Linked DNA regions of Homo sapiens. The protein of the gene in region 1 interacts with the protein of each later gene in a pairwise test. Each region holds a gene or a part of one and is shown in the gene's direction. Other genes may lie near its edges. The genes, in order: ASB3, KLF11, ENKD1 and KIF1B.

The links.
Region 2: the proteins of ASB3 (region 1) and KLF11 interact in binary tests that used the Homo sapiens proteins (3 or more experiments, as listed by UniProt).
Region 3: the proteins of ASB3 (region 1) and ENKD1 interact in binary tests that used the Homo sapiens proteins (3 or more experiments, as listed by UniProt).
Region 4: the proteins of ASB3 (region 1) and KIF1B interact in binary tests that used the Homo sapiens proteins (3 or more experiments, as listed by UniProt).

The regions. Positions count from the first base shown.
Region 1 is NC_000002.12:53,699,936-53,706,959, reverse strand, and holds part of ASB3 (ankyrin repeat and SOCS box protein 3), read left to right. Parts: intron 1-6,431; coding exon 6,432-6,689; intron 6,690-7,024. Other genes in the region: GPR75-ASB3 protein, read left to right, coding at 6,432-6,689. UniProt on the Homo sapiens protein: Probable substrate-recognition component of a SCF-like ECS (Elongin-Cullin-SOCS-box protein) E3 ubiquitin-protein ligase complex which mediates the ubiquitination and subsequent proteasomal degradation of target proteins. Recognizes TNFRSF1B.
Region 2 is NC_000002.12:10,046,540-10,053,563, forward strand, and holds part of KLF11 (Krueppel-like factor 11), read left to right. Parts: intron 1-1,110; coding exon 1,111-2,056; intron 2,057-5,687; coding exon 5,688-5,968; 3' UTR 5,969-7,024. UniProt on the Homo sapiens protein: Transcription factor. Activates the epsilon- and gamma-globin gene promoters and, to a much lower degree, the beta-globin gene and represses promoters containing SP1-like binding inhibiting cell growth.
Region 3 is NC_000016.10:67,663,738-67,671,013, reverse strand, and holds the start of ENKD1 (enkurin domain-containing protein 1), read left to right. Parts: upstream 1-4,263; 5' UTR 4,264-4,571; coding exon 4,572-4,656; intron 4,657-4,748; coding exon 4,749-4,943; intron 4,944-5,845; coding exon 5,846-6,018; intron 6,019-6,951; coding exon 6,952-7,077; intron 7,078-7,193; coding exon 7,194-7,276. Other genes in the region: uncharacterized protein C16orf86, read right to left, coding at 2,414-2,841, 2,916-3,513. UniProt on the Homo sapiens protein: Microtubule-binding protein which regulates microtubule organization and stability. Promotes the stability of astral microtubules and facilitates the proper orientation of the mitotic spindle.
Region 4 is NC_000001.11:10,374,570-10,381,593, forward strand, and holds part of KIF1B (kinesin-like protein KIF1B), read left to right. Parts: intron 1-284; coding exon 285-477; intron 478-685; coding exon 686-804; intron 805-1,975; coding exon 1,976-2,018; 3' UTR 2,019-7,024. UniProt on the Homo sapiens protein: Has a plus-end-directed microtubule motor activity and functions as a motor for transport of vesicles and organelles along microtubules.

The DNA.
Region 1 (7,024 bases):
AACGGACAACCCAGTGTTCCTAAAGACAATATGGAAGGTTGTTTTGTTAGCTCAACACTTGAGCAAAAGAGGTTGGATATGTTTACCAGATTGTGAGAATGGATGAATTGCTTTTCTTCACACTAGAAGTATATTTCTCTTAGTAACTAGTATTGGGCATAAGAATCAGGGCTGAGAATGCTGGGGGAAGACTTCCTATTAAGAAACTGCGTTTTGGCTGGGTGCAGTGGCTCATGCCTATAATCCCAGCACCTTGGGAGGGCAAGGTGGGCGGATCACGAGGTCAGGAGATTGAGACCATCCTGGCTAACATGCTGAAACCCCGTCTCTCCTAAAAATACAAAAAATTAGTCAGGCGTGGCGGCACGTGCCTATAGTCCCAACTACTCAGGAGGCTGAAGCGGTAGAATGGCGTGAACCGGGGAGGCAGAGCTTGCAGTGAGCCAAGATCACGCCACTGCACTCCACTCCATCCTGGGCAACATAGCAGATTCAAAAAACAAAAAAAAAAAGAAGCTGCCTTTTGACTCCTTTTTAAAGACATAATATTTTGTCTGTTTACATACCTGCTTCTTCATTAGAATGTAAGCTCCTTGAGAGCAAGGATTTGCCCTTGATCTAACTCCTATTAGGCATTAAAAATATATTTGTGAATTAATGAATCAATAATTATATCAGATTAGCATATTTATTATATGTTAGTCTTCCTCAATGCCTTGTGGAGGGATAAGGATGGAGCATGATTCTTGGGCTTGGATGAGTCACAGATGTATAATGGCTGTGTGACTTTGGGTATTTCACTTCATTCTGCTAAATCTCATTCCATTATCTTTAAAATAGGGATAGTAATAACACCTAAGCTTGCTTTAGAAAATTATTTTGAGGATCAAATGAGCTAACAGTTGTGAAAATGCTTTGTAATTTGTAATTATTGTCTTAAAAAAACCCTAGTTTTTTGGGTGAGAGAGTCTTTGGTCTCAATGTCAATATATGTACAGATCACCTTGCCCGGATGTGTGCCTTGTACTTGCATTCTAGGATATTGCCTGTTTGGAACATCTACTCATATTTTCATACTGTCCCTCTCTGGGCAACTAGCTTTTGTAATTTACAAATATTTACAAATGTTTAACAAATTTAAAGGTTAAAAACAAATTTAAAGAAATTATCCACACAGAAGTACAAAAGAGAAAAAAGATGGAAGAAAAAAACAAGAGCGTCAGGGAACGAAGGGACAGTATCAACAGGTCTAACATTCATGTCATTAAAATCCAGAAGGAGAGGAGATTGGGCACAGAAAAAATATGTAAATTAATAATTGCCAAAAACTTCCTATTATTGGATAAAGATATAAATTTACAGATTTAAGAGGCCTGTTAAACCCAAACAGGATAAACTCACAGAAAGGCATGGTCAGAAAAATCAAAATGCTATAAAACAAATGTAAGGGAGACCTAGTCTCTCCCCGGATCAAAGAAGAAAAAGAAAAGTAAAGGTGAAGCAGTATGGTGTACAGTAGTCCTTGGTCACAGACATGAGTTAACAAACTTAGTTTTGTTTTTTTTGTGTGTTTTGTTTTTGCATCTCTTAGAAATTTTGCTCTTTGAAGTGGCCATGTGAGCATAATTACAATTTGTTTTTGTGCTATCGAAAGGGCATATGAGCGATTTTCTTTCATGTGAGACTTGTAATTGAACCAATATATTCTTAGGTAGATTTTCAGTAAGTAGTCATTGGAAAATGCTATATTTTTAGCCTTTAAAAATAAAGTCAAAACCTCAAAATATCTGTTTTAGGAGGGTGTATTCTCTTAGTCTTTTTATTTTTCATTCTAGAATTGGGCAACACCTTATTCTATAAAATAGAACATAGCAAACTTTAAGGTCAAAGAGACGTAGAATTTGATTGTGGGAATTTTGTCAAAAATATCAAGGTTCAAAAAACTTTACCAAAGTAGGATCACAGGTCAATGTGAAATAATAGTCACTTATCTCATCTAGAGTGATAATTAAATGGCTTCAAAAGGCAAATGCAGAAAGTTATATAGTTGTAGAAAAACCTGAGTTCTTTATTAGAGAGTTTTCATAAGTGATCAGATAGAATAAAGACAACATGAAGCACAGGGAATCATCTTGATAAAATGCAGAATCTTTGTTTTTTTAGACCAGTTACCTAATAGGTAAAGGAAAACCTTTCATTATTTCCAAGAAAACTAAATACCACATTTTTATTATCTAATGTCTGGCTGGTTGCTTATACATTTACTGTATATGTAATATGAGACTTATTCATTTTGAGTTTCTGTATGAAGCTTTTCCAATTAAGCAAGAAAATGATCATTTTCCCAGTAGGTTTTGCTTTGGTATGTCAAGAGGGTCATATAACCAGTGTCTGAGGGAAAAAAATTGAAGCTGAAAAATATGTTTTTGGTTATTTCTTTTGATAAGTAAGCATCTTAAAATTTGGATTGCCTACAATCACATGACTAAAATTAATTAAATTAATTACAGTCACCAATTATAAAGCAAGGACAATTGAATATAATCTTAATTTTAAAATAGCTATCATATGTTATTTTTTCCCTTTTTTTTTTTTTTTTTGAGACAGTCTCTCGCTCTGTGGCCCAGGCTGGAGTGCAGTGGCGTGATCTTGACTCACTGCAACCTCTGCCTTCTGGGTTGTGGCGTTTCTCATGCCTCAGCCTCCTGAGTAGCTGGGATTACAGGCATATGCCACCACGCCTGGCTAATTTTTGTATTTTTAGTAGAGATGGGTTTTCCCATGTTGGTCAGGCTGGTCTCAAACTCCTGGCCTCAAGTGATCTGTCCGCCTTGGCTTTTTGGTGTGGGATTACAGGTGTGAGCCACCACGCCTAGCCCTTCTTACTTTTCTTAATGAGTGATACACGAATTTCCTATATCACTTTTACCAGTTATAAGAATTCAAATTTGGTCACAATACTGGTACCAGGTAACTTAGAAGATTCAATTTTCCAAAATTAATTATTTGATATTCTAATTTTTAGGGATTTGGTAATAGATAGTAAGTTTAATGGTATAAGTTTAAAAATTTTATTTTTATAGCAACAATGTGTTATGATAGTGTTAATTTGGTATGATTGTTGTAATTAACACCTATCCGACTTCAGGTGTTAATGGCTAAAAGACTTCCCTTTTCTCATTTGTATATTTTCTAGTATTTCTCTGAAATCTATTAATTTACTATTTGTGGACTTTCTTGCACTATTGACCTGTTGTATTCTAATAAACTTTTATCTACTTTTATAAATAGTACAATTAACACCAAAAGGTGATGAAAATGATAAATAACAGCTTTGGATTTTCTTTATTCTTGTTGTTTTGAGATAGAATTTCACTCTGTTGCCCAGGCTGGAGTGCAGTAGTGCAATCATTGCTCACCGCAGCCTCAAACTTATGAGGTCAAGTGATCCTCCTGCCTTGGCCTCCTAAGGTGCCCCAGGTTTTAAGTTTTCTCTTCCTTATTATTTTTTCAGCTAATTCAACTTTTAAGCTCAGTATCAGTGTTCTGAAACATTTTTGGTAGGTATTCTTTGTGAGAATGACACTTAGCTCCTTTCACCACTCCCAGGGATGATGGAAAGGTGTCTCCTCCACTACTGTATAGATCCTGCAACAAAAGCAGTTTTTGTCCTTTGGAGCTAAAAAGTTAGCAGCTATATTGATATGAAGCCAGTCTTTCAAGAGTAATTGAGTAATCCATCTCGAATGAGGAAATATAAGAAAAAGATTCCTCCAAATGGAATGGGAAAGGAAGAGGGAAGTTGAGAAGTTTTAGGACTGTTTGAGCAAATATGAATGCCTTTTATATATGGCCACAGAAGTAGATTGTGGCTTAGCTCACCTGGTTTTGTCTGTTTTTCTAGTTGATACTAATCATTGTTATTACATTAGTTTCATAGAATTAATTGTGTCCATTCTAGCCACCATATCGTGTGGGCACATCTGACAAAACTGAATGTCTTCATCTTGTTTTCAGCTAATGGTCGAAAGCCATTCAGTAAAACTCACTATTTGGCCTGTTATAATTCACCTAATAAGTTGGTTGGATATTTTGTTTGCTAATTGAACATAAAATGCTGAAGATATTTGCCCATTTCTATTTGTTTAAAGTAAATTTTGTTTTCATGTTGAATTTTCTCTTACTGTGCTTCTTTTATGTGTGAGCACTGTTTTTCTGCATAGTTTTGAACTTCAAGGAGCGGAGTGGTAGAAAATGTGCAAACCCCCAAAATAAGGTCTAGACATTGGATTTTAATTTTTAAATCTCTCCTCTCAGTATCTGATGTTGTTCACTTCTTATATAATGTACAGTCCCTCTATGTCACAATTAATTCTTGATATTTATGTTAAACAAGATAGACTTTTGTTTAAATCTCGGGTACTTGAAGAGTTTTCTCAATTTGATATTAGGGCTACAGAGAGAATTTGTTGAAGTGTTAAGAGAAATACATACTAATTTATATTTTAACCAGAGGTTATCCATGCTCAAGGATTTATTGTGTGCTTAGTGACATGTAATAATCAAGGTCATATAGAGCCCTGAAGTTGAAGTTGCTTGTGTTTCTGTAGTGTGCACATGTATTTGAGACCTTCTTTAATAACCTTCCCAGAAGCTCAGGGCATGCTGACAAAACTCTATGCTTCTCCAGTTTATTTTGTGTTTATTTTATTCTTCAAACAAATGGTAGTTTTTTTGGGAAATGGTCTATATTGTAGCACTGTGCAGTTTTATAAGCCTTTTGGGATTTACTCTTGCCCCTTCTAATACAAGGCAATGTGAATAATTGGAAGAGGTTTAGAGCTGATTTTCTAAAGTGTGTTTTGGTAGAATACTAATTCTGTAGATTGTTAATAGATATTATATGGGATTAAAGGGGTTGTATTGTTAAATAAGTTTGGGAAGTACAGGATTAAATAATATTGAATATGTTTCTTTTGTAGAGGGCTTTTGAGAATTTTTCTTATTGTAGTGTGCTTTGTGAATTCCTAAAAGAGGAATGGATCTACAAAGATTTGAAAAGTCCAGAAACATAGGATAGAACTTATATTTAAGTATATATACCATTGTTCTTGTGTTTACAGAATTTTGGGCATTTTATACTTTTGTTTGCTTTTTTCAGATTAATGATTGGACCCATTGTTAATTTTAAAGGTACCTCTTCTGAAAAGTATCTGAAAGTTGAATAAAAACATTGAGCATATATTTGGAAATGTAACTAACACATTGTTTAAAAATACATTCATCCTATCTTTCTCAGGCTCACTGTATACTGTATAAGGAGGTTTCTCAGTTTTTTTCACTGGAGAGTATTTTTCATATGGATCATTTTCAGGAACTAAAGTTCTGTGTAACCTACTTTGGAAAACATAGATCTGGCTCTAAAATATTCTTCAATTTGGCTATATCATGAAGTGTTCAGTTTTCATAATAGAGAAGAGATATTGCAGAAATTTGCTATGTCATATTCACTGTTAGATTTTGGTTTGATATCATTATCCCAGTTCTGCCAATTACTAGCTCTGTGACTCAGCTTCAGTTTTTGCATCTACAATGGAGATAATAATAGAAGTTAATTAATTTTAAGATGTAGTATTGTAAATTAAATTTGTGTTAATTAAAAAAGTTTTTAAATTTTTTTTAATACCATTATAAATGTAAGGCCAGTCACGGTGGCATACCTTTTGGGAGACCAAAGCGGGAGGATTCATTGAGGCCAGGAGTTTGAGACCAGCCTGGGCAACATAGTGAGACTCTGTCTCTACAAAAAAATTTAAAAATTAGCCAGGCATGGTGGCATGTAGCTGTAGTCCCACCTACTCAGGAGGCTGAAGTGGGCGGATCACTGGAGCCCAGGAGTTCAGTTACAGTGAGCCTTGATTGTGCCACTGCACGTCAGCCTGGGCCACAGAGCAAGACCCTGTATCTAGAAAAATAAATAAGTTTAAAGTGGGAGGGAAATTGGCTAAGGTTATTGCTAAGGAAAATGATATCTTAGAGATTCCTAGAATCATTTAGTTTTAAGGATTGATCACGTTGTTTATTGATTTTGTTAAGCAAAGTATTTTGTAGTAAAGATACTCATTTGTACAAAATATCACAATTTGAGTTTTCTGTCAATGATAATTTTTTTTAAAATGACATTTAAGATGAATGTTTTAAATTATAATAATACCTGTTCACAGTTGAAAATTAAAAACCATGCAGGAGGGTGTAAAAAGCAAAAGCCCCACCACATTCTCTAATCTCAATCCACTAGATGTGTAGAAACCATCCACTATTTAATCTGCCATACTTATTCCCCAGCTGTAACTACTATTAACTGTTTGTAAGAAGTATCTTATGTCAAAGTCTAACTTCTTCTTTTTTTGTTTTTATTTTTTATGGTGGAGCTGTGAGTTCTTTGGAATTGTGAACATTCTTTTGAAATATGGAGCCCAGATAAATGAACTTCATTTGGCATACTGCCTGAAGTACGAGAAGTTTTCGATATTTCGCTACTTTTTGAGGAAAGGTTGCTCATTGGGACCATGGAACCATATATATGAATTTGTAAATCATGCAATTAAAGCACAAGCAAAATATAAGGAGTGGTTGCCACATCTTCTGGTTGCTGGATTTGACCCACTGATTCTACTGTGCAATTCTTGGTAAGAAATTCTACCATAGTCGGGCTTACCCTTTTTGAGTGAATATACTACCTTTAATTTCCTTCAGTTGAGATCCCAGTGTTTGGAGAAGGGTATCTGTGTTTTGACTGTGATGGCTGAATTGGGGTGAAGGAGTTGGTGGCTGCTAATAATGAGATTGAATTTAAGCACAGAGTCCTGGGAAAAGATAAGAGGTGACTGGAAGGAGGTATGAGGGGATAGATGCCAGTGAGCTCTTCTAAGAGGGATATTTCTTCGACTTCTGGGCATTCCTCATGCTTCTCTTAAAATGCCTGTAACAGAAGAAAGAATGCTTGGAGCTGCTTTGGAGATTT
Region 2 (7,024 bases), about 44 Mb from region 1:
CTGTGTGGGTCTGAAGGAGTAGAAACTCTTCCTTTGGCCAGGCATGGTGGCTCAAGCCTGTAATCCCAGCACTTTGGGAGGGCCAGGCAGGCAGATCACAAGGTCAGGAGTTCGAGACCAGCCAGACCAACATGGTGAAACCTCATCTCTACTAAAAGTACAAAATTTATCCGGGTGTGGTGGCGGGCGCCTGTAGTCCCAGCTATTCAGGAGTCTGAGGTAGGAGAATCGCTTGAACCCGGGAGGCGGAGGTTGCAGTGAGCCGAGATCGTGCCACTGCACTCCAGCCTGGGCAACAGAGCGCGAGACCCCATCTCAAAAAAAAATAAAAGAACAAAAAAAGAAACTTTTCTTTCATTTCTGAAAAATGTGCTCTTTCTATGGATGGATCATACCTTGCTAGCTACGTGGTTAATGTCCGTGGGATGAAACCTACAGATTAATGTGAGAAAGTGAAATTTACTTCCCCAGGGGAATCTCGGGGTGGAGCTTAGGTTCTCCAGCCTAGTGTCAGAATATATCGGTAGCAGCTGGAGAAAGCATGTACTTTGACATCAGATTGCCTTCGTTGGGTGGCACCTCTGCCCTCCCGTGGCAGCCGACTCCTTAATGTGAGTTCTGTGAGTTGGGTGCAGTAAGTCACTCTTGCTTTTTGTTTTTTTAATTTGCTACATCTGTGAAAGTACTTGGAAAAATTGCATCTCAGCTTGGAGAAGCTGAGAACTGTAGGTTGCTAACAGAAGTGGAAATTGTGATTGTCCTGGGCTGGAAGCTTGCTCTGAAAGAAGAGTGTAGAAAGCAGATTTGGAGAGGGATAGGAAGGGCCTGTGGGTTGTCGGGAGGGTTGCAGAAGTGGTGGGCCTGGCGGCCAGGAGCTCCTCTCAGAGTTCCCTGCACTGGGCTCTTGTGTAGGTTTGGGAGAGGTAAACACGTTGGGAATAAGCTGAGAAAGCAGAGTGCCTCATGCAGCCTTGAAACCCACTGGGATGTTGAAAACAGGGTTAACTGAGTGTCTAGATGATTCTGTGTAAAGGTATTGGGAGCATTGTGATGAATTAAATCCCTTTTAAAATTTAAAGCAACCTTTTAACATGGTACTTTTTTTTTTAGTGCATAACTCCTCCTCAGAGCCCTGATCTCGTGGAGCCATCGACAAGGACACCTGTTTCTCCCCAAGTAACAGATTCCAAAGCATGTACAGCCACGGATGTTCTCCAGTCCTCTGCCGTAGTGGCCAGAGCTCTGAGCGGGGGCGCGGAGAGGGGCTTGCTGGGTTTGGAGCCAGTGCCCAGCTCTCCCTGCAGGGCCAAGGGGACTAGCGTGATCCGACACACTGGGGAGAGCCCTGCTGCCTGCTTTCCCACCATCCAGACTCCAGATTGCCGGCTTTCTGACAGCAGAGAAGGAGAAGAGCAGCTTCTGGGACACTTTGAAACTTTGCAGGACACACACCTCACGGACAGTTTACTCAGCACTAACTTGGTGTCCTGTCAGCCCTGCTTGCACAAGTCTGGTGGCCTGCTGCTCACTGACAAAGGCCAGCAGGCAGGGTGGCCTGGTGCAGTTCAGACTTGCTCACCAAAGAATTATGAAAATGACCTGCCCAGGAAAACCACCCCTCTGATTTCTGTCTCTGTCCCTGCTCCCCCTGTCCTTTGCCAGATGATCCCTGTGACTGGACAAAGTAGCATGTTACCAGCTTTTTTGAAGCCCCCTCCCCAGTTGTCTGTGGGGACTGTGAGACCCATCCTAGCTCAGGCTGCTCCAGCGCCTCAACCTGTGTTCGTGGGACCTGCTGTGCCTCAGGGAGCTGTGATGTTGGTCCTGCCCCAGGGAGCCCTCCCTCCGCCTGCCCCCTGTGCAGCCAATGTCATGGCTGCCGGGAATACCAAGTTGTTGCCCCTTGCCCCTGCTCCAGTGTTCATCACCTCTAGCCAAAACTGTGTCCCTCAGGTAGACTTTTCCCGAAGGAGGAACTATGTATGCAGCTTCCCAGGTTGCCGGAAGACCTACTTCAAAAGTTCCCACCTTAAGGCCCATCTTCGCACTCACACAGGTAAGCGCTGGGGCAGGTGGGGCATTGGGCACACCAGACCCTGTGGTTAGGAAGCACACCTTGAGCCGCCTTTGGCTGGGAGGGGATCATGAGAACCCCTGGCGAAGGTGGAAGTGTGGCTTTTTCTTTGGTTCTGAAAAGCCCGCACAACCTTGTAAGGGTGGGATTGTTTGCACAGCCATCAGGATTTTGCCTACAGAGCGCTCGCCCTGGAAGATAAAATGTAGTATAGTTCTGTGATTGTGTCTTTTGGTAGCTTTTAGAGTGACTTACAGTGCCCCCTTCTGTTCACATTGCAGTAGACGTTTCATCCTTTTTTTTTTTTTTTTTTTTTTAAAGAAAACATGCATTCATTCACATTTAGTAAATGTATCTTACCAGTGTGACTTATGTTTATGTGAGAAAAGGTCTGGCCAAACTATAGAAAAGTTCAAATTCTAAAATATTTTTTAAAAGAGTATAGTTTTCTTACCTCTGAGAGTAGTTTTTAATTTAAAGTAAGTCACACAAGAAACTATGCTGACCTAATGATCTCTCTGTTGTCTAACCAGCTCTGTCCAATATAATTTTTTGCAATGGTGGAAATGTTTGTTGTCTGTCCATTAGGGTAGCCACTGGCTGCTCACACTTGAAGTGTGTGGCTAGTGTGCCTGAGGAACTGAATTTTACATTTTTTAGTATTTGAAGTTTAAATAGCTCCATGGGACCTGTGGCTGCCCTGCTGCGCAGCAGTGGTCTGAGTGTTGCTGGATAGACAATCGCTTCAGTAGGTGAGGGCACCATTTCTCAGGTGTTCTGTGAGTTTGTGTTCTGTTGCTCTGATCGTGGTAGCCTCCACGTGTAGAATAAAGTGCAGTCTGGTGTTCAGACATTATAAGAGGAACTCTACTACTCCATTCTACTGAGTGGCTGCTTGCTTTGAGGATAAAGCCAAACTTGGCCCATGAGGTACTCACCTCTGCCCATTCAGAAACAGTCTCCCCAACATTCTATGTCTGGTTCCATATTTCCACCCTTCCCTCTTGGCCCTCTGCCCATCTCTACTTACTGAAACCCTCTGAGGGCCTTCCTAGGATTAGTTATTAGATTGTTTCTTTATCTTCCTTCTTTGACCCTAGTGGTTTATTGTAGGTCTTACTATAGTCTCCCTTTGTTTTTTAGTTAGTTGTATATCTCACCTGGATATATTCCTGGTGCTTGATAAAAGGGCCTGACACTAGTCAGTAAATGAGGGTTGGTTGTTTGCATGGCAGATGGACGTGGGGCTGTGTCAGGGAACGGGTGTTTCTGAGGGGAATTGACCTGCCTGCCTCTTTTAATGGGCTTGTTGACTTGGTGAGCTCTGCATTTCACCGGGACTCTCCAGGGGAACTTTGCATTACACCAGAGCACAGCTTCCAAATGTTGGAGGTGACTGAATGAAGTTTTACCGTTTATTTGGTTTACCTTGGTAGAAGTACTGACAGAATGACCTGCAGTGATTGAAACAAGTTGCTTCCATGTTTCCTAAAGTACTTCCAATTCAATAACAGGCCTTGTACAGGGGCTCACGCCTGTCATCCCAGCACTTTGGGAGGCCAAGGTGGGCAGATCACAAGGTCAGGAGTTTGAGACCAGCCTGGCCAACATGGTGAAACCCCGTTTCTACTAAAAATACAAAAATTAGCTGGGCCTTCTGGCGCATGCCTATAATCCTAGCTGCTCAGGAGGCTGAGGCAGGAGAATCACTTGAACCTGGGAGATGGAGGTTGCAGTGAATGGAGATTGCGCCATTACACTCCAACCTGGGCGACAGAGCGAGACTCTTATCTCAAAAAAAAAAAAAAAAAAAATTGGCCAGGCACTGTGGCTCATACCTGTATTCCCAGCACTTTCCGAGGCCAAGGCAGGCAGATCACGAGGTCAAGAAATTGAGACCATCCTGGCCAACATGGTGAAACCCCGTCTCTACTAAAAATACAAAAATAGTTGGGCTTGGTGGCACGCTCCTGTAGTCCCAGCTACTTGGGAGGCTGAGGCAGGAGAATCGCTTGAGCCTGGGAGGCGGAGGTTGCAGTGAGCCGAGATTACGCCACTGCACTCCAGCCTGGTGACAGAGTGAGACTCCGTCTCAAAAAATAAAAATAAATAACTGTAAGAGTTCTGAAGAATCCCCTTGTGCCATTTTGTAAACTTGGAATTTTCATGAGAAGTAGAAACTGGGCAAGTTTACCTTGGATAAGATTGCTTTTTATATATATTTCTGCCAACCTGAAAAATATTTAAATTGGAGTAAGGTAGAGTGAATAGATGCTACCTTTTTTTTTTTTTTTTTTTTTTTTTTTGAGATGGAATCTTGCTCTGTCGCCCAGGCTGGAGTGCAGTGGCGCGATCTCGGCTCACTGCAAGCTCTGCCTCCCGGGTTCACGCCATTCTCCTCTCCTGCCTCAGCCTCCCGAGTAGCTGGGATTACAGGTGCCAGCTACCATGCCTGGCTAATTTTTTTGGTATTTTTAGTAGATACGGGGTTTCACCATGTTAGTCAGGATGGTCTCCATCTCCTGACCTCATGATCCGTCTGTCTCAGCCTCCCAAAGTGCTGGGATTACAGGTGTGAGCCACCATGCCCGGCCGGTGCTACTTTTTTTTTCTTTTTTGGACAGTCTCACTCTCACCCAGGCTGGAATGCAATGGCGCGATCTCCGCTCATTGCACCCTCCGCCTCCCAGGTTCAAGCGATTGTCCTGCCTCAGTCTCCGGAATAGTTGAGATTACAGGCACCCACCACCACACCCAGCTAATTTTTGTATTTTTAGTAGAGACAGTTTCGCCATGTTGGTCAGGCTGGTCTCGAACTTCTGACCTCAGGTGGTCTGCCCGCCTCGGCCTCCCAAAATGCTGGGATTACAGGCGTGAGCCACCGTGCCCAGCTGGATGCTACATTTTTTATTTTTAATTTTTTGAGACGGAGTCTCCTGTGTCGCCCAGGCTGGAGTGCAGTGGTGCAATCTCGGCTCACTGCAAGCTCTGCCTCCCGGGTTCACACCATTCTCCTGCCTTAGCCTCCCAAGTAGCTGGGACTACAGGTGCCCGCCACCACACCCGGCTAGTTTTTTGTATTTTTAGTAGAGATGGGGTTTCACCGTGTTAGCCAGGATGGTCTCGGTCTTCTGACTTTGTGATCCGCCCGCCTCGGCCTCCCAAAGTGCTTGGATTACAGGCGTGAGCCACTGCGCCTGGCTGGATGCTACATTTTTAATTAATTTATTTTTGTTTTTTGGTAAAGATTGGGTTTTACTTTGTTGCCCAGGCTAGTCTGGAACTCCTGTGCTCAACTGATCGTCTCCAGCCTCCCAAAGTGCTGCGATTATAGGTTTGAGCCGCTGTACTTGTACTTCGCCTGATTTATTTTTAAATATATTTTGAAAGATTAGCTTGAAATCTTTGGGTGCTAACATAGCTGCATCTTAAGTGTGGGAGGAATAAATGCCTTTTGGAGGATTTCTTGACCCAAATCATCCAATTCCAGAGTAATAAGATACCACTTTCTTCTGAGTTTGATGAACACGATTTTAAAATGACATGAATTAACCCCTTGAATAAGGTGCTTAGCGTTTCCTTTCTCTTTAATATGTATTTTCTCACCTCACAGGGGAGAAGCCTTTCAACTGCAGCTGGGATGGCTGTGATAAAAAGTTTGCTCGTTCGGATGAGCTGTCACGCCACCGCAGAACTCACACAGGGGAGAAGAAGTTTGTGTGCCCGGTGTGTGACCGACGTTTCATGCGCAGTGACCACCTGACGAAGCATGCCCGGCGCCACATGACGACCAAGAAGATCCCAGGCTGGCAGGCAGAGGTTGGCAAGCTGAACAGAATCGCCTCTGCAGAGAGCCCGGGGAGCCCACTGGTGAGCATGCCAGCCTCTGCCTGAAAGGTCCATTAGGACATCACTCATGGGATTTTTAAAAAGCCTCTTTCCAGGAATGGAACTGATGGATTCCTCTCCCACTGCCTCACCCAAAAAAAACGGTCTTGGCGGCCTAGGGGAAGATCGGGGAGCTGGTTTTGATGAAAGTATGTTAACTTTTCTTTTCCACTTGGGACCCTGTTCAGTATCTTTTGTAGTTTCAGAAGTTTTTTTGTTTTGGTTTTTTTTTTAAAGAAATGGTAGAAAATTTGATAATCTGAATCACCAGCATTCAAACAAATATTTCGGCAATAAAGTTTACAAAATCTGGATTTTTACAACCTTTTCTATTGATGTTTTGTAGAAATAAGACAGGGTACTAATTTTTATACTGGTTTTTAGAAAAATATTTATATTGTTGGTGCTCAAATCACCAATTTCTAGCTAGATCATTTTGCAGCCTTCTTTTCAGTGTTTAATAACAAAGTTTTTCCTAATGGCCCTTCTTTTAGTAAACTGGACATGTTATTCCACTACAAAAACCACAAGTTATCTGGCCTTTTAGATCTTTTTGGAATCGGACCTGGTTGAGTAAGGACCTCTTAAAAGGGAAAAATAAATTTTGCCGTCAGCTTCTTCATAACGTTTTCAAGGAAATTCTAGGCAATCATTCCTGTCACCAAAGAACTAAAATTTTGGTTGACTGGAACTAGTGAGCTGTGTCCATGGTGTGTCATGAAGGATGTACCCCAGAGAGTAACATGAGCCACTGGGCAGATCCCAGGGACCAGTACTTGCTGCAGGATCTAGTCTGTAATAGTCTTGGCCATGGCTCTGCTGAAAGCAAGCCATTCAGTTTCTTGTTTGTACCTAAAACACCAAAAAAGAAACACTCAAATCCAGCTGCTTTGTCAATTGTCAGTTCTGACTCCTTTTGCTGTGGCCTTATCCGTACTATATTGTGGGTAGAGTAACTTCTCAGAAAAAAAGGAAATGTCTGTATTGGTTGGATGAAACTCCACCAGAGCACAGCTTAGCTGGGGCGAGATGCATGTGAAGGCAGGCAGTGCCAAGATTCCG
Region 3 (7,276 bases), on another chromosome or scaffold:
TAGGGACTTGGTCCTTTCTGCAGCTCCTACTACCCACCCTGCTTAGACAAGTCCATTGGGTAATAGGCCTCAGGAATTGCAGACTAGTTCTCCCACGATTTCTAATTCCTGCCTCACCTGTGAGAAGACAGGACCAGCTCTTCCTTATCAGTGCTGGCCTCGTTCACGCTTCCAGCCCTGGAGACCGCACAAAGATACAGAGGCCTTCTTGGGTCCGGCCTTAGCCAGAGAGCCCCCAGGTCGGCAGATCCTGCACAACTCAAGACAGGGATTCCTAGATCCCAGGGTGTGGTCTCATGCAAGGCCACTTCTCTCCAGGCCTCTGCCATCCCAAACATAAAGCAAGGAGGTTAAGCTCAATTATCTTGGCTGGGTGTTTTGGCTCATGCCTGTAATCCTAGCACTTTGGGGGGTCAAGGAGGGAGGATTGCTTGAGGTCAGGAGTTTGAGACCAAGCTGAGCAACACAGACCCTATCTCCACAAAAAAAATTTTTGGCCGGGCACGGTGGCTCACATTTGTAATCCTTGAGTCCGGGAGGCAGAGGTTGCAGTGAGCCAAGATTGTGCCACTGCACTCCAGCCTGGGCAACAGAGCGAGATGCTGTCTCAAAGAAAAAAAAAAGTCCTGACCCCCATGGCTTGTCATGGGGCCAGTGAGCACCCAAGTGACCCTGTCAAAGGAGGGAGCAGGCTGGGATGATGCCAGAAAGGGGACCCTGCTTTTCCCACCTGAACCTGCCCACCCTACTCCCTCCAGTGACCTTGCCAGGCCATATTCCAGGGAACCTACATATTAGACTGTGGCCTCGGGATGGCCTCAGCATTTCAGATTCTGGCCTGTCCCTCTCTGCAGCTTCCTCCACCCCTCACTTCAGTCTCATCACCTTGGTGCCTTTTAAGGGGCCCTCTGGCTAGGTCGATGTGATGCAATGAGATGTGCCCTTAGGGAGCTCACGGTCTAATCCCGATGACAGTTATAACCCACATGATAGCAATGCGCAGGGGCTGCAATGCAGGGCAACATGGGGTGCTGTCTGGCTCCCCAGGAAGCAGAATCCCAAGTTTTCAAAGGTGTGCGTGCACTAGCCAGGGGGAGAGGTGGGAATAAAGGCATTTTAGGCAGAGAAAGCCCCACATGCACAGAGTGAAGGGAGGAAAAGGTGTAACTGCTCAGGGAATTACCGGAAGCCACTGAATTCTAAGGTAGCTGGGGCAAGAGGAGGGGAATCCCAAGGGGGAGTGACACCATCAGGGGCTCAGGTGTGTGTGTCACAGGGCCACTGGATGGATCCGTGGGCCAAGGGATGACAGGCAGGGTGACCAGTGAGGCTGTCACCTGGAGATGACAGTGGTCCAGGCGACGGTGCTGACTGTGGGGTCCGAGAGGTTCTCAGCCTGAAAGGGTAGGATCACTGGCCTCAATGTCTGCTTAGCTTGTAGGAATCAGGGAGCAAAGAACAGGATGGGGTCTGGGGTGACACCCAAGATTCTAGCTTAAACAATTGTGCAGATGAGATACAGGAGGAAAAGCCAGTTGGAGGAAGGGGAAATTTCCATGAACTTAAAATTCCCTGTGTCTGTTTGTGGTGTCCAAGGAACACACAGGAGGCCCAGGATGTGCAGTTTCCAAAATGGCCAACACTGGCTGGCTCTTCCCAGAGATCCTTGCCGGTTGGACACAGCTGTCATCCAGTGGCTTGGCCTCAGGGTCCCAGATGCACTTACTGCCCCTGTCCACCCCTGCCTGCCAGGAAAACATCACTGATGCCCTGTCACCTGTGACCAGAGGCTACTCCACAGACAAGGTCCGGTCCAGCTATGGTCTGGCAATGAGTAGGAAACATCCCAAAGCTGTCACTGTTGTGACAGGCAAAAGAACTCTGTGCTACCTCCTAGGAGGATCCCAAGTTTTGATCCCCTCAAGGTGAGACCAAATGCAGGCCCTTCCCCAGGAGACAGAAGAGCAGGGCCAAACACCTGCTTCCCATGACCCAACAGACCCTTTCTTTTCTCTGCCCCAAGTTCCTCCTTCTCACTTCCCTCTTCATCACCCAGTTAGCTGCCTGACCCTCAGATTCACCTAAACACACAGCACCAGGTCCACCCTGATTCAGTGAGGCATGGGGTGGCACAAAGGAATCTGTCATTGTCAAAGTCTCAGGTGATGCAGATGACCATTCAGGCCTCAAACCCTGCACTGTTGAGTCCTCCATCCTCTTACCCATTTCAGGCAACCTATCTGGGGAATCACAAAGTCTTTGAAAAAGAAAAATATTTATTTTCAGCAAGACCAAAGTCCCAAGTGGGGGCAGGTGCCAAATTTGCCCCCGCCACCAGAGGGCCTAGGCCCACAGGAAGCCTGAAGCCAAATTCAGGCGTGGAAGGAGGGGAGCCACCAGTGGGGCGGGACAGTCACTTGTACTGAGGAGAGAGCGGGGGGACAAGTGGAGCAGTGCAGACACTCAGCATCTTGTCGATGTCCACCTGGGTTGACTTATCCACCTCGGCCTTGTGGTCACTCACCCCCAAGCTGGGCAAGCCCCCAGGCTCCTCTCCAGCCTCCTCTCCGAGGGGAGCCAGGGCATGGGTGGGGGTCACTAGTGGACTGGGACAGGGCAAAGCGAGGCCTGGGCCCAGCTCACCTGCCAAGGGCAGCAAGGCCTGCAGTTGCTCCACACCTCCCTCCTCGGGAACCGGGGCCAGCTCTGCCTCTGCCTCCACCTCAGCCTCCCCGTCCCCCTTCCCTGCCTGGTTCAGCTCAGGGTTGCAATAGTTGACGTACTGGTACAGCGGCCGCAGGCGCTGGGCCTTTCCTGCAAAGACCCAGGGCAGGGCAGAGGCTAGAGCGCCAGGTTGTGCCATGTCGGGCCCCACAGGCAGGGGGAGAAGGAACAGTCCAGGGACTGCCACTCACGCTCCAGCCTCAATGTCTCTAAGGGTGCAGACACCATGCTGGCCACAGCGTGGAGCACGGGAGCCCCCAGGCTCTTGCGCTTCTTGGCTTTTTTGTGCTGTTTGGCAGATGGTGAGGGCTCACTCTGGCTGTCCTCTGGCTCCTCCTCCTGCAGCGGCAGCTTGGGTGGCAGCTCAGCTTCAGCCTTAAGATGGGCACGAAGGCCCGGGAGGCTGAGAGACCTGAGCCAGGGACAAGAGACTTGAGCCAGGCTCCAGCCCTGGCTCCCATTCCCTGGCCCAGGGAATAGCCCAGCCTGCCCACAGCCCCAGGGCTCGACGCCTGTCCCGTTCCTGGTCAATGAGACCCCAGGCCCAAGAGGCTTAGAGGCCAGTGAGCCCAGGCCCCTACAAGCCCTGAAGCTCCCACTCTCCTGCTGCTCCCTACACGGGGGCTCTTGAGGAACGGGAGGAGAGTGATGGTAGTGGCTGGGGACGAGAATCCTCCCTGCAGGAGTGCAGGATTTAGGAATCCTACTGTGGTGTGTGCCCCAACCCCGGGGCTGCAGCTCCTTCCCCCCGAGAGCCCCCTCACTTGACAGGCTTTCTCTTTGGACCATGACGGGGCCTCACAATGGAGACCACGGGCCTGGGGCCTCTCTCCTCTAGCGCCCCGGCATGCGGCTTGGGCCGCTCCTCCCCCAGCTTGGGTCCTTCCTCCTGGAGCTCCGACTCCGAAGCTGCGCCTGCTGGGCGCTGGTCTTCACTCTGGGTTCCGCGGGCCTCATGGGCAGGCACCAGGAACTGGTCTCCCGCCACTGGACACTAGAGATGACACACAGGCCATCGGTCACCATGGCCGGGCAAAGGACATAGGGATCCGTCACTGAACACCTAACGTTAGACACCGAAACGGGAATAAGGACACCAGCCTGTGCCCCTCCCCGCCTGGAGGGCCCAGCCTGGCAGTTAGCGGGTCGGGGCGCTCAGTTCCACCTCTCAGAGCGCTGCGGCCCTGTGTTTGAAGGTTAAACAGCCTGACGGTCACCTCGGAGGTCTGAGCGCTGCCGGGCTCCTCCGTGAGCTGTCCCTGCCCCACGACCGTCGCCTCCTGGACCCCCGGCCGCCTCTCCGCCCCTGCCGAGGCCATGGCTGCGCAGGCTGAGTGCGTCCTCGACAGCTGCTTGGGGCGGGCCCCAAGGGGCTGGATGGTGGCCCCGCGCTGACCCCGGAGACCGGCCAGCAAGCGAGGGCAGAGCTGGGAAGAGAAACCGGCGACCGCGGAGCCCACCCTCGGCCGAAACTACAAGCCCCAGGACGCTTTGCGCCGGGGTCAGTGGGCCCTGACCCCGGGGACGGAAGCCACGGTTGCCCGGCAACAACAAGTCCCGTCGGGTGGCAGCGGCTGGCGGCAAAACCTCTCGAGTGAGCCCCTGCCCGAGTGCCGCGGGGGAGAGGCCGCGAGCGGGACCGAGAAGTGGGCTGGGAGCAGAGGTCGCGGAGGTGGCGAGCGAGGCCGGGGCCCAGGCGGGGACCGGCAGGGGCCCGGGAGTGGCGGGCACGCCAGGGTCAGGGTGCCGGGCGAGGGAGGGGGCCCGGGGTTGGGGAAGGGGGCCCGGGGAGGGAGGTAAACAGCCCTGCAGGCCTCGGGGCACCGTTGCTGGGCGGCGCCGGCGGCATGTGCGAGGGCCCGTCCCGCATCTCGGGGCCCATCCCCCCAGACCCGACGCTCTGTCCTGACAACTACAGGCGGCCGACCTCGGGTGAGTCCGGGGGCTTGGCGGTGGTGCGAGGCTCAGGGGTCGGCCCTGGCTCCACCTCTGAGCCCCGGACTCCGCCCGGCTCCGCCCCACAGCTCAAGGGCGCCTCGAGGGAAACGCGCTGAAGCTGGACTTGCTGACTTCCGACCGGGCCCTGGACACCACCGCTCCCCGTGGCCCCTGCATCGGTCCCGGTGCCGGAGAGATCCTGGAGCGCGGCCAGCGCGGCGTCGGGGACGTGCTGTTGCAACTCGAGGGGATCTCCCTAGGTCCTGGGGCCTCTCTCAAGAGTAAGTCCCAGGAATGGAAGAAGGGACAGAGAGGCAGTGCGGGGTGGAAAGAGATCAAAAGCAGCTGCTCTTTCCACCCTGACGTGGGCCCAGGCTTTGCATCTCTTGAGTCTCAGTTTCCCCAACTATAAAAGGGGGAGAAATATGCTACCTTCTCGAAGGAGGTGAACTGAATGAGGTAGTTCCCACGAAGCCCTAGCTCTGCTTTATGCATTTGTTACCCATTAAATTTGTTTGTTGAGTGCCTACTGTGTGCCAGGCCATATAGATGCTAGAACACAGGGCTGAAGATAAGCATGAGCCATCACTGAGTCAAGGTGGGATACAAAGATCAAGAGATGAATGTCATATATGAGATGATCTATGGTGTACTTCAATGGTGTACTTCACTATAATAATGGAGGAAATCACCTGGGCGCAGTGGCTCACTCCTGGAATCCCAGCACTTTGGGAGGCCCAGGCGGGCAGATCACTTGAGTCCAGGAGTTGAAGACCAGCCTGGCCAACATGGTGAAACCCCATCTCTACAAAAAATACAAAAATCAGGCTGGCATGGTGGAGTGTGTCTGTAATCCCAGCTACTCGGCAGGCTGAGGTAGCCGGGGAGGTTGAGGCTACAGTGAGCTATGATCATGCCACTGTACTCCAGCCTGGGTGACAGAGTGAGACCCTGTCTCAAATAATAATAATAATAATAATAATGGAGAAAATCATCCTGTGATACTTACTACATGAGGAAGGGAACACGGTGATGAGGGAGAGTGTGTGTAGGGTCTAAGGTAGTTGGAGAGGTCAGGGAGCTCTTTCTGTAGGAGGCAGGGGGCAGGCCTGTGTGTGAACTAGTGGAAGTTGGACTGTGTGGGCCCCATGTAGGGCAGAACCTGGGGGCATCTTTTCTCCAGGGAAGGACCCTAAGGACCATGAGAAGGAGAACCTGAGGCGGATCAGGGAGATTCAGAAGCGCTTCAGAGAACAGGAGCGCAGCCGGGAGCAGGGCCAGCCCAGGCCCCTGAAAGCTCTGTGGCGCTCACCCAAGTACGACAAGGTGGAGTCCCGGGTCAAGGCCCAGCTCCAGGTACCTGCTTCAGGGAGCCAGAAGTATTATCCATTTTGTTGGCCAACAGGCAACTGTACCCTGATCTGAGTTCTGGGGTGGGAGGGAAGTCACAGAGGTAACAGAGGACTAAGAGACCCTGGCTCTGCTGCAGGGCGAGGCTGGGGGGCTTCTCAGAAGTAGTGATGGTGGGGCTGATCCTGAGGGCAAGTAGCAATTAGTCAAAGGGACAGCAGAAGAGAACATTCCCAAAAGATGGAACCTCACAGACCACAGGGCACGCAGCAGTGGAGATGCTAGGTACAGTTCACTGTGAGGAAAGAAGGGCGTGAAGTTAGGCCAAGAAGTCAGCTGGACCCACGTCAGGGGCCACAAAAGCCACTTTTCAGCCCTTATTTCTGAGGACAGTGGGAAGGGCAGGGGTATGGTGGGGGGCTCTGTCTCAGGGACTCAGTAGGAGGAGCAGGAGTGAGAGGAAAGGCAAGGTCACACAAATGTGTTGTAGCTGAAGCATCTGTGGGGTTCCCAGGGGGTGGGAGTGTGTCCAGGAAGCAGATGGAAATTCAGGCCTGGATCTCAGGAGTGAGACCTAGGAGTTATTGACGATCAGGTTGAGGACAACGAGACCAAGGAATTGACCGCCTGGATTTGAGGACTTGGAGGCCAGCTGTTAGGAGCCTTGCAGGGCTAGAGCCAGGAAGCTTGGCTAGGAAGGAGGAAAGAGAGTGGTAGCTGGGCCAGTACTGAGGTGGAAGGAGAGATGGTTTGTTGTTTTCTTAAAAATCTGACATACTCACACATTTGTGTGCTGATGAGGACAAGTGTCCCTTGAAGAGGGAAGAGGGCCCGAGGGACATGGATGCAAAGGTCAGAAGGGCCAAGATGGCCAGGGTCTTGCAGCTTGAGCCCCAGACCTCAGCCTGCCTGCTCTCTCTGCTGTGCCCTGCCCTCCAGGAGCCTGGCCCTGCCTCTGGGACAGAGTCTGCCCACTTCCTGCGGGCGCACTCCCGCTGCGGCCCTGGCCTCCCACCACCCCATGTATCTAGTCCCCAGCCAACCCCACCAGGTCCCGAAGCTAAGGTGAGAGGATGTATGGGGGCTAGATGGTGGTTGGGCAGGGCTCCTGGTGTGGGGGGGGTGTTCAGGGACACAACATAATGCTGTCTGCCCCCACCCACGCTTGCTGTGTCCTGCAGGAGCCAGGCCTGGGGGTGGACTTCATTCGTCACAATGCACGAGCTGCCAAGAGAGCCCCCCGGAGGCATTCCTGCTCACTGCA
Region 4 (7,024 bases), on another chromosome or scaffold:
ATCTGTACTGTAGTCTGATGCAAGTTGAGTCTGGGGTGAGAGGGCCAGCCTGGGTTTCTCCAGTTGGGTCTCATAATGCATCTGCACCCTGGCGCAGCATGTTGCCATGGCACGGTTTCGCTTTTGCCGTATTACTTTGGCAGATAAGATTCTAGGCCAAATAGGTCATTTGCCTGTTTCATCGAATCTAAGGACTTGGCCTAAGTGTGGCGTATTTTGATGGTCCTCAGCACGATTATTTTCTTTTTGTGAGAAACTAACTTTTGTCATATTGTCGTTTTTAGCTCAGTGGTCTCTAAGAAAGGATACCTTCATTTCAAGGAGCCTCTTTACAGTAACTGGGCTAAACATTTTGTTGTCGTCCGTCGGCCTTATGTCTTCATCTATAACAGTGACAAAGACCCTGTGGAGCGTGGAATCATTAACCTGTCCACAGCACAGGTGGAGTACAGTGAGGACCAGCAGGCCATGGTGAAGGTCCGTCCTGCCCTGCCTTGGTTTCTTATTGCCACGTGTGCCCTTCTCTTTTGATTTCTGCACTCTCTGTTACGTGGTGTGAAATTTCCCTATTCTCTCTGGTTTTGAACTTCCTTTGTGAAGTGCTATATGCCTTGGGAATATGGCAAGGCAGTCCCCATTGCTGTCTCTGTAGTAACTTTCTTGTCTACCTGCATTTTTCTTTCAGACACCAAACACCTTTGCTGTCTGCACAAAGCACCGTGGGGTCCTTTTGCAGGCCCTCAATGACAAAGACATGAACGACTGGTTGTATGCCTTCAACCCACTTCTAGCTGGCACAATACGGTAAGAAGTTTTGTTGTTGTTGTTGTTGTTTTTGAGACGGAGTCTCACTTTTTCTCCCTGAAGTGCAGTGGCTTGGTCTTGGCTCACTGCAACCTCCGCCCCCTGGTTCAAGCGATTCTCCTGACTCAGCCTCCCCAGTAGCTGAGACTACAGGCACGTGCCACCATTGCCTGGCTAATTTTCGTATTTTTTGTAGAGACGGGGTTTTACCACAATGGCCAGGCTGGTCTCAAACTCCTGACCTCAAGTAATCCACCCACCTCAGCCTCCCAAAGTGCTGGGATTACAGGCCTGAGCCACTGCACCCAGCCTAGAAGTTGTTCTGTGTTTTCTTTCTCTCTTTGGCTTTTGGCTTCAGGAATATCAGGATAAATAGGAAAGGAAGAATTTTTCTTTTCTTTTTTCTTTTCTTGTTTTTTTTTTTTTTTTTTTTTTTTGAGATGGAGTTTTTGCTCTTGTGTGGCCCAGGCTGGAGTGCAGTGGCATGATATCGGCTCACCGCAACCTCCACCTCCCAGGTTCAAGCCATTCTCCTGCCTCAGTCTCCTGAGTAGCTAGGATTACAGGTGCCCGCCACCACACCCAGCTAATTTTTTTTTTTGTATTTTTAGTAGAGATGGGGTTTCACCATGTTGGCCAGGCTGGTCTTGAACTCCTGACCTCAGGTGATCCACCCTCCTCGGCCTCCCAAAGTGCTGGGATTACAAGCGTGAGCCACCACATCTGGCTTGAAAGGAAGTATTTTTCAAAATAAATTTAAAAGAGAGGAAGGACAGGAGTGTAAATTGGTTGTGGGGTGGTAATGAGGCCTCTGCATCTTGTAAGGCATTGTCATGTTCTGAACCACCAGGGATACTCTGGTCACACATGTGCACCAATTATTTTCCTTCTTTGTCTTTTTGTTCTCAAGAGTTCTAAAGATGGGGCTCAGGGGAGAGAGTAAAGGGAGGACAGTGAGAACCTTAATGGTCTCCCAACCTCCAGCCCTGTGATTCAGCCTCACGTTCTGAGGGCTTGTGTCACAGGGTCCCGGAGTAGACGGCTTAGAGGACTAGGCCTGCGGTGCCAAATAGGAAGATGCTCCAGGAGGGAGCCTCAGAGGGAGAGGACTGTGAGGGGACAAGACTTGTACCCAGACTTCTAATCCTACCTCCCCGTTTGTCCCCCATAGGTCAAAGCTTTCCCGCAGATGCCCGAGCCAGTCGAAATACTAAGTGACTCTGCCGAGTGCCCTCACTCGCCTTCGAGAGATAAAGAAAGCGTTACCTCTCATTTCTCTTTGTGATTCTTGACGGTGACTCTTGTATGTAATCCTGTGGCTTAACTACTTCTCCCTCCTTGTCCAGCACTTTTCTAGCTCTCCCGTTCCCCATCTCCATTGCTCTGTACTCTTTTCTTTTTTCTTGTGCTGAGAATCTCGTTAGTAGCATGTGGCCTAACAAAAGGAAAAAATGTTTTTAAACACACACACACACACACACACACACACACACATACACAGACAAAAACACAAAAACTCTGAGGGGATCTGGTGAATCTCCAAATTATTGTGGGTGTACTTTGGCTTCCTTTTGTATGATAGGTCCCCATCATGACCACCTCTGATGTCTGTGCTGCTGTCACCAGGCACCTTTGTTTTTCAAGACAACATACTTTTTTTTTCTTTTCTCTGTTTGTGATATCACTTTAATTTTTCTTGGGTGGCTTAGAGACTAAGGGAGGAGACATCTGGCCTTTTTAGAACCTGAGAGGAAAAAAAGAGTCTTTTTTTCCCCTCTGTCTCTTTTTGCCATGGCTAATCCCTGCATTTCCATTCAGGGAAAAGGTGGTAGTGAGCATAGAACTGCAACAGTTATATTCTGAGTCAAAGTTGGGGCTTTTTACGGCATAATTATGGAATTTTTATTTACTGGTAGAGAGGAGACGAGAGGCTTTTTCAGTGGGCCTGGGACAGTGGCTGCTCTTGACTTTGTGTGAAGGGAAATGCCAAGGATGCTTCTGGTGGACTTCAGGGGACCCCAGGGTTTGGCCGTGGGCCGTGATGGCAGCAGGCGGTGGGATGCTTGTAGCTCCTCACAGCAGGATTCCTGCCCACTGTTTTTTCTCTGTTGGGAGGGAAGCTCTTTTCTAGGAGTGTCTCAGTTCTGCTTTTGGCATTAGTGATGGTGGTGGTACAGTTGGAATTAGTGCCATGTCATACACAAATGTTCCACAAGGCGGGAGTGTTTCACTTTCTGGTGATAAACTTGATGGTCATTGTTATGATTAAGATAATGCCGGGCAGGCCGGGCACAGTGGCTCACGCCTGTAATCCAAGCACTTGGGGAGGCCGAGGCGGGCAGATCACGAGATCAGGAGTTCAAGACCAGCCTGGCCAATATGATGAAACCCCGTCTCTACTAAAAATACAAAATTAGTCGGGTATGGTGGCACATGCCTGTAATTCCAGCTGCTTGGGAGCCTGAGGCAGGAGAACTGCTTGAACCCAGGAGGCAGAGGTTGCAGTGAGCCAAGATCGCGCTATTGCACTCCAGCCTGGGTGACAGAGCAAGACTCTGCCTCAGAAAAAAAAAAAAATAATAATGCTGGGTAGTGACCTTGTGATTGTTACAGCTCCCTTTGATCAAAGAAATATAGCTTTCAGGCATAAACCTGGAAGTCTCCCTCTGAATCCAGCAGTTGTTTTCATTGATGCTTGTCAGGTTGAAGATGCTTTCAGTGATGCTCTCTATACTCATAAATAAGCAAATGTGGCAGGCTTTGCTTTCTGGATCCCAGGATTAAAACTAACCGTGACCACTACTCCAAACAAAACACAATATGCCTAGGGGCACGGATGAACGTCCAGGGAGCCCGGGCCCCAGGCTTTGTTGCGTGTTCCCTGCTCCTCTCCATCTGGTGTGGAAACACTGCCCAGGGAGAAAGGAGGAAGCTCACTGTGGACAGTCTTCTTTCCTTCTGACAGACCAGGTCATCTGGCTTCCGAGATCATCAGAGAAGATAAGTCTGTCTCTTTCAGCTGCCAGTAAGTTTTCCAGGATGAGAGGGGAAAAAGAAAGCCTCCAGTGACTTCAGTTGCTTTGCCAGTTGTCTTGGGATTGTTTTACACCATCCTTTACTTCCCTTGCTCAGACCTCTCTGTTTCACCATTGCTCAGGCATTCAGGAAAGTATCTGCTCACTCCCACTTGGTGAGTCCTCGGCCTTGAGGTTGCTGACTCTCAGGCGTTAGGCAGCTGGATGACTTCCCGCTTCACGCAGCAAAGGCCAGGGGCTTGCGCGCCTCTGCAGAGTTGTTGCTAGGGAGACTTGTGTCATCATCCACAACCTTGTTTCTCACTTCCTGGTTGGGCTCATCTCTGAAGAACAGGTCTCCCAGCTTCGCTCCTTATCACTGCATTGTGAAGAGGAGGAAAAGTGAATCACGGAGAGAGAAAGGAAAGGATAGAATCACAGGCTGCGTCTGCACCTGAAAAGTGACCCGCGGAAACTCTATGGCGGATTTTTTTTTTAACTTTCTTCTTCCTGTTAAAACATAGGTCACTAACTGTGATGTTATTTGTTTTCTAAGTGGTATGTGAGATTTTCTAATGTAGTTAGAAGTTTCATTGTCTGATGGACACAATATGCCCTTCCGGTTCTATTCAAACCAGCAGGATCTGTCGGTGCTTAGAGATGGCTGCCTGGACTGGAATCAAATCTAATTTCAGGGAAATGAAGATGGAATTTGAAGGTCACTTTTAAAATTAAGTCATTGATGCTGCTGTTACAGAGTGTGACAGAGGATCCATGTCTGTGACACAGGACGGTGGGAAGCCTGAGAGAGAGTGAAATTATGTGATACACTGAAATGACTTTTGTTTTTCTTCTAACTCATACAAAACTGGTTTGGAAAGTCTTTGCTTTGGAAGCGTCAGACATTAGAACAGGCCAAACTGGACTGTCTGTTCATAGCGTGCCTGAATAAGAAGGCCTCTTAGGGAGCCAGAGGGAGCAGAGTGGTCGTGTCCTGCGTGCTCTTCACCCTCTGGGGCGCCCCTGCTGCGGCTGGCAGGTGCAGACAGCCTTTGCTGGTCCCCAGCACGTCCAGGGTGGGTGCTCCCTTGCCCGACAGAACCATCCCCACTGTGAGGCTGTGAGAGATTTGTGGCAGGAACTGTTTATGAGGCTCTAGTTGTTGCTGTTGTGGCGGGAAAGTTAAGAAACATAGCCCTTAAGGAAACCACCTTTATGTATTTTCTTAAAGCACGCCTTTAAATAAGCAAAAACTTTAAAAGGCAGGAAAGAGAATTCTTAGGCAAATTCAGAGAAATAAGTGCTAGTTAATACTAATCACCTCCTCCTCTGTCTCTCATCCTCCTTTCTCCCATCAAAGCAAAATATGGCCTCACCACCAGCCCCAAATCAGTGCTCAGACCCTCTCTGTGTCTGTGTGCCCTCCTGGGAGTCAGTCAGCGCTCAGGCCAGGACTGTGCAGGGCCAGCCAGCCCATGCGCTAGTCAGGAGCACAGGCAAGGGGTGCTTGTGGCAGTGGCCGGGCACCTGAGCCCCAGCTCGTTGTTAAACGTGCTGACGGCAAGGGGCAATGGAGTGAGTTTCCCAACTAAGAAACCACTATTATATATTTTTTCCCTTCAGTCACATAGACTTCAGACAACTCTCCTATTTTTTATGGATTTTTCAGCTCATTTCAGATGAAGGAACTAAGTCATTGTGAACTGTCTCTTGAGATCTAAAAACAAGATGACTTTTCCTGGCACATATTCCAAAGCAAAGACTTTGTTGCCTGCTGCTTATTGTCTAATTTACAGGGATATTTAATTTTGTCAGGTCTATGTATATTTATCCAGCTATACTTACTTGCACAGTGGATTGGAGAGAAAGGATTCTCCAGTGTGCACACTCATCGGTACTCTTTCTGCATTTCCCTCGTGCTGTGTCCCGCTCGGGTTCCAATGGACAGTATCAGGGCTTGTTTGACTTAGGTCTTTCAGTTTTCCTTTCGGTTCCCTTTTAAAAATGTGATTGTTAACCTGCCTCTTGAAAGATTCAACCGGGTGTGGTGGCTCACGCCTGTAATCCCAGCACATTGGGAGGCCAAGGCAGGTGGATCACCTGAGGTCAGAAGTTTGAGACCAGCCTGGCCAACATGGTGAAACCCCGTCTCTACTAAAAATACAAAAAGTAGCCAGGCGTGGTGGCGTGTGCCTGTAGTCCCAGCTACTTGGGAGGCTGAGGCAGGAGAATAGCTTGAACCTGGGAGGTGGAGGCTGCAGTGAGTTGAGACTGCACCATTGCACTCCAGCCTGGGTGACAAAGCAGGACTCCGTCTCAAAAAAAAAGAAAAGATTCATGATGCTGCTGCTCCCAGAAGGTTTGCTGGATGTGTTTACATAGGACTCTAACTTGTGTGCACTACAGTTGTTCACCAGGGCCAGTGATTCACCCCAGTGTGTGGCCAGACCATGACTGTGTAGCAGGAATGTTTTAATTTGTGCTTCCTTAGTAAATTGAAATATCAGCTGAGAGATTATTTGCTGCTGTTATTCAAAAGGCCATTTATGAAGTTAGTATTTGAGCCCCATAAGATCTTTAAAAAGCCTCCAATCATTTAAAGGAAGAAATCAGAGTTGCTATAAAATTCAGTAAAAAGCTCATAGCCAAACGGCTGTGCTCAGATGGAAAGTCTGAGCTGAGGTTGGTCTCTTGCCAAACCGTGGCTGTTGTGTGTTGTTCTTCATGTCTTCGAGTTCATTTTTTTTCATTCTGCCTATTCTGGCATCAGCTCACTTGAGGAGTCCCTCAGCCTTCTTGTATTTAAGGCATCGTCTTAGACTTTGTGGCTCTAAAGTACCTGTCTGTTGAGATTTCAAGTCTCTTGTCACCATCCTCACACATGACAACAAAACCCATAATGCATAAGTGGCCTTTTTGAACCAAGACTTTGCAAACTGATCTCTCCCCCGTGAAGGAGTTGAGCACATTAGCAACAATGTACATTAATTTTGGATTTTCATTTTCATGTTTTATTTTGTAAATATTATCTGATGTTTGGAGCTTGAGTATACAGACTGTAAATATAGTTCTTGTATTTGTACTAATTCTGATTCTTTTGCTGTATAGCCTTAGATGTGCAATGCAGACACTATCTAACTGTGTGTGGTAACCTTGCGTCACGGAGCTGTTAGTGAACGAGGTAAAAATAATAAAGGTACAGCCAG